2 separate regions of the Homo sapiens genome follow, and region 2 is linked to region 1. The links come from fine-mapping of genetic effects on gene expression. A gene starts in region 1. The other region holds a variant in brackets. All regions are shown on one strand. Distances are from middle to middle. Region 1 holds the start of LINC00426 (long intergenic non-protein coding RNA 426). Region 2 overlaps LOC124903145 (a long non-coding RNA gene).

Region 1 (2,803 bases):
CTCCTTCCTTTTGAGTTTGAGCCTGGGGGTGTGGGTTGAGGATAAAGAGTAGGTGTGGGCCAGGAGTGGTGGCTCACATCTGTAATCCCAGCACTTTGGGAGGCCGAGGTGGGAGGATCTCCTGAGCCCAGGGGTTCGAGATCAGTCTGGGGAAGGGACGAGACCTTGTCTCTACAAAATTAAAATAAAAATAAATAAATTAGCCAGGCCTGGTGGTGCATGCCTGTAGTCCCAGCTACTCAGGAGACTGAAGCAGGAGGATCACTTGAGCCCAGGACTTTGAGGCTGCAGTGAGCTATGATCACGCCACTGCACTCCAGCATGAGCAATAGAGTGAGACCCTGTCTGTATTGAGAGAGAGAGAGAGAGAGAGAGAGAGAGAGAGAGAGAGAGAGAGAGACACACACAGAGAGACAGACAGAGAGAGAACAAAGAGCAGGTGTGATCGGAGCTCAGGAAATCCTCCCTCTGGTAAGTAGTCTCAGCCTTCTATTGAGGCTGCCACCACAGTGCCATCCACAGCTTTTGCAGACCATGACATACGCAAACTGTTGTAAAATTTTGGCAGTGCTCATAGTCTCAGAGCCAAGCTTTGAAACAGAGAGGCAGCAGGAGACAGTGGGAGGAGGGTGGGATTAGAGACAGAAGGTCTCCGGGTTTGAATCTTTTCTCTCTATTGGCTGGTTGTGTGACTCTTGTCTCAGCTTCTTGGGCTGTACAAAGAGAAAACTAACACCTGCCTTAGAGACTTGTGATGATTTAATGTAGAGTGTGTGACATGTTATTGGATATTAGCAATTGCTGATATTTATAATGAAGAGCACTGGAAGCTGTCACAGTTCTCATAGTTTATTTTGCATTTGCTCCTCAGCATCCTCTGCTCATCTCAGTGTCTGTGTGGTCTTAGTGGGATGCTGACTATATTAATACTTGTAAACTTTACTCATTTTCCATCTCAAATGGGACAAGGGATAAAAATTATTTTTTATATTGTATATTTATTTAGTAAGTGAGCACTTTCCATTTTAGGCACTGGAGACACAGAAATGAAAGAGACAACGTGCCCTCAAGGATCTCACAGTGTGTGGTGAGGTGGACACACACACACATATCTAAGCACATGACAGTGAGAGGCACGTGGTCACGAGGTTGTGACGTGGAGCTGAGAGCTCAGAGGAAGGGCTTTGGATCAAGTGTGGTCAGACCACACTCGGCCATGAAAGTCTTTGAAGGTGGGGAAGGGGTGAAGATGGTGAGGGGATTCCACGGCTGGGAGAGGTACACTCCCTACACGTTCTAACCAACTGGCCGTGGGGAGGAAGCTGGAGGTCAGGACACAGGTAGGGCCTGGGTTTTTGCCTCATGTGACTGGGTGGATGGTCACAATTCGGCCATGCTGTCTTTGAACTCAACACCACCAAAATCATAGGATATTCCTAGTAATGTTGATTTCCACTAGATTACTTTTGTTACCAGAGTTTTAAGGGCAGAAGTCTTTGTCCCTTTTTTTCTCTAACAGGAAGCCATTCTGGGCCATTTATTTGCCGTTAACTTACACAGCCCACTGGAGAGTGGAGGGGTGTGAATGTGGGAGCCTGGGTGAGGGCTGCACCGGACTGTCACCAGGACAGTCCTCAATGCTGCCTGACTTAGCCACATTGCCAAAAACATACACCCATAGGTTATGAAATATTCAATACTGTATTGTATGGGAGAAATACAAAGAGGAGAAAGAACTGGGTTGAAAAGGTGGTCTGGTCAGGTATCTCAACCCACTGGCTTATAGACCAGGAACCACTCTAGACAATGCATGTAAGGAACAGAAATGGGAAACAAAAACATTTAAATTGTATTTTTCTCTGATTGCAATAAACTTGGAGGAAAGCTATTTTCTTACTTTGAGCTTTTCTTCCAATTATGATGAATGCAGAGATTAATTACAAAGGACCCGGATAAACTAAAACTCATCTACAGCATTTTTTTTTTTTTTGAGATGGAATCTCGCTCTGTTGCCCCGGCTGGAGTGCAGTGGCGCGATCTCGGCTCACTGCAAGCTCCGCCTCCCGGGTTCACGCCATTCTCCTGCCTCAGCCTCCTGAGTAGCTGGGACAACAGGCACCTGCCACCACGCCCAGCTAATCTTTTTTGTATTTTTAGTAGAGACGGGGTTTCACCTTGTTAGCCAGGATGGTCTCCATCTCCTGACCTCGTGATCTGCCTGCCTTGACCTCCCAAAGTGCTGGGATTACAGGCGTGAGCCACCGCGCCCGGCCTCTACAGCATATTTTAAAAGGCAAAAAGGTATTTTAAAATTCATGTTGGAAGACGTGGGCTCTAGCTGGGGCTGAGACAGATGATTCAACTATATTTTTTATTTTACTGCGCACTGAGGGTTGAAGCTGAAGAGCATGCATGCTTACCATTGTGTGTGCACATGTGTGTATGTGTGTCTTACACCAAAGACTGAAATCTCAAAAAAGCCCCAGGGAGCAGGTGTAACTATTATGCTACAAATGAACAGGTGTATTGTGGATCGCTGTTATATAGTTCTTTTCTTCAAACATACCTTCCTGATATAACGTTTTCTTCCTGAAAGCAAACAGTTTCTACTATTGGATTCTTGAGTGTATCATTAAGCTTCTCCAAACACAAATAACATCTACTATGCTTTAAAAGTAATGGCCCACACAGCTACTTATTTGTGTGACTGTTTATCTGTTTATACCTTTGCCTGTTTTTATCTTCAAGCAAATGGGGGATCTCAGAAGTCTTAATGAAGTAACTATCCCTGAACACTGGGATC
Region 2 (2,803 bases), 49 kb after region 1:
CCTAGATAGCGATGTAGCTGTTAATTCAGTTCTCAAAGTCTCTGTTATGATGTTTGTGATCAAATCCAAGAATGCACAGCTCAAGGGTGTGCCCACAAGCCAGCAAATAACTGTCTGGGTTCGTTTTCCCAAGCTCCTTTCTCTCTACCATCTCCCTGGCACTTTCCAGTTTCCCAGGATTCACCTTTTTGGCTATCCATCCAGAAAACTGGAGCCTTATCACCCTGCTCTTCTGTGCACTCACTGTGACTCTGCCCTGTCCAGGACCAAGTGGTGGGAGCCCAGAGAAAAGAAAAAGCATGGTCTTGGGACCATGATTCCTTTGACTGAAGAGGAAGGTCCCGCTTCGACAGCATATTCTGTGCTGTGGGCCTTCCATGCTGTGGCTGCCACTGCCAGAAGACTCTTCTCTCACCTTGAGTCTGAACTAGAAGGTTTATGCTGGAACCCTCCCTGTCACAAAGGCTGCCTTGAGTCCTGTCCAGGGAATACAGAGGGTAAACATGGTAAATCCACAGTCAATTGGTGATACTTTTGAATTCTGGTTTTCTCCCACAATCTACCTGCTACTGTTTACTTTTTCAAGAGTTCTCAAGCAGCTGCACCAAGCATTCTGTCCAGGTGTTATAGATATATTCTATGGGAGAACCAGAACCAAAACCTGTTCCTGGATTTTTGCAGAGCCATTTCCCCAGTATCTCCTTGGTCTGAGATCTGGGGACATTTTCCAGGTTGCAAAGGTAGAATGGATACATCATCCTGAGAGTTTATGATGGCAATTGTTAAATATGTGAGTTTGTATGTTCATGTGTATATGAGTATTTATTAAGTACTGAAAATAGACATTGCAGGTGAATTCAGGCAATATGAAAGCTACAAAGGGGAACCAAATCCTTGTTTCCAAACTGGAGTGGTGGTCACCTCCTCATGTTCCTAAACCACTGCAGAGGGGAAGAGAGCTTTTTCCACCTGTTCAGCAGATACAGTACTGTAGGTAACAGCTTGCCAGCAGACCTATTGTTCTATTGGGCAAATATAATATTCTAGCCATGGAGCTGTCAGCTCTGCATCAACTTGCAGGTACCATCGAAACCTTTTTTTCTTTTCCTTTTATTCATTTCTTCTTCCTGCCCCTTGTTATGGAGCAATGTGATGTTAGGACACACATGATTAGATCTAGGTAACAGAAAGTGATGGGTGGAGTGTTGATGAAAAGGAATGAGGTTCTTACGTGTTGTAAATGTTGTGATCCAGGCTGGGGCAATCTTTAGGTTGGGGGTGGGAGTTGCAGTGCAGAAAACCCTTGATTGATAAAGATATAGATGTGCTTGCCAATGTCACCCAAGGGATAAACAGCTTGCCCGCCATAAAATCTCATTAGTCCTGCCAGGTGAATGAAGAAATGTAAAGATGTGTGGCCCCAGTCTAACTAAAGCCATCATCTCAAGAATGTCTCAGCAGTGTGTTATGGGTCTGTTTGAAGATTTCAATTTACCTGTAGTAGGTTTGCTTTCTTTCTTTCCACTAGAGGAAAACATTCAGCTTGTTTTATTGTTTTGGATTCATTTTCAGAGGACCAAAAATATCATAGCCCTCTCTCCAAAAAAAAAAAAAAAAAAAGTAAAAATACCAACCGTTTGACTGTCCTCCCCAGCACACACACAAT[C/G]TTAAAGGAGATTTCAGTTTGTGCAACAATGGGTCACTTTTGTGGATGTACAAGTTGAATGAGATAGTTGTGAATTCATTTGTGGTGGAAAAACATGCTGAGAATTTGAAAATGTCTCTGAAGAAAAGACATTGTATTATATTTTCCTTTTTGACATATTTGGTGAGTATAAGAAACATCATCAATTCTTTCAACAAATGTTTACTAGGAACCTCTGAATGCACGGTCAGTGTTAGGAGCTACAAGAGATGTAGAGGATACACCAAGAGCAAGGGCCTTACTCTCTCAGAGCTTCCAATCTGCCTGTAAAGACGATATAGTTGTAGGTGGTGTTGTCTGAGTGTTCACTCAGTTGCCAGGTCAGAAAGCTTGGCCAAGCTTCAGCTTCACTGGTTCCTCACTTCCCATATTCAATTGGTTGCCAAGTCATCTTGATCCTATTTCCAAAATGCTTCTCAAATTTACTTGGTTTCCCTCCTCCTACTGCTGCTGCAACTCTATCAGGCTTTCACTTACTTCAATTGCCCAGATCATAGCAATTTCCTTCTAACCAACCTCCAATCAAGTCATGTATCTGGTCATGACTTTTCCCTATTCAAAATTTTTTCATGGTTCTTTATTATGTCCAGAATAAGGCCCACAGCTCCTTAGCACATACATTATTCTGGTCCAAACTTCCTCTTTCATGTCTGTCTTCCACTGGACCTGTAACATGAGGTGCTCTCTGAGAAGACCACGGATTTGCCCACTCCTATGCCTTTGTTCTTGTTATTCTTCTGCTTATAGTCCTCTCCTTTTTTTTTTTCTGCCAAGCAAAATCAAACTTGTTCTTCAATACAAGGTCAAATGCTGCTTCTTCAGTGTGGCCAGTCACCGGTTATAGCTCCCATTTCTAGGCTCCTGTAGAACTTTGTTTAGGTATCATTTATTCATACATTCATTTGATGTATTCATTAAGTAATACTTTATTACTGGGCAATAGACTAGCTGCTGAGAATGCAAAGGTAAGACATCATTCCTGGCCTCAAGGGACTTAGTCTAGTGGGGAGATGAATTTGAACATAATAAGCATATGCAATGAGAAAAGATAGTGGTTATAATGGATGTGTGGACAAAGGTGTGTGTGTGTCTATGGGA

What was found.
Region 2: its variant is fine-mapped to the expression of LINC00426 in blood mononuclear cells (TOPMed, PIP above 0.99).

The regions. Positions count from the first base shown.
Region 1 is chr13:30,372,320-30,375,122 of GRCh38, reverse strand. It overlaps LINC00426 (long intergenic non-protein coding RNA 426), which reads left to right and starts at 1,209. Exons shown (of 5, transcript NR_024464.2): 1 at 1,209-1,340; 2 at 2,749-2,803.
Region 2 is chr13:30,322,988-30,325,790 of GRCh38, reverse strand. All of the region lies in intron 1 of LOC124903145 (a long non-coding RNA gene), which reads right to left. Among named protein-coding and RNA genes, the nearest start is that of LINC00427, 4.5 kb to the right of the region's middle. The variant C/G (reference allele first, on the strand shown) is at 1,667.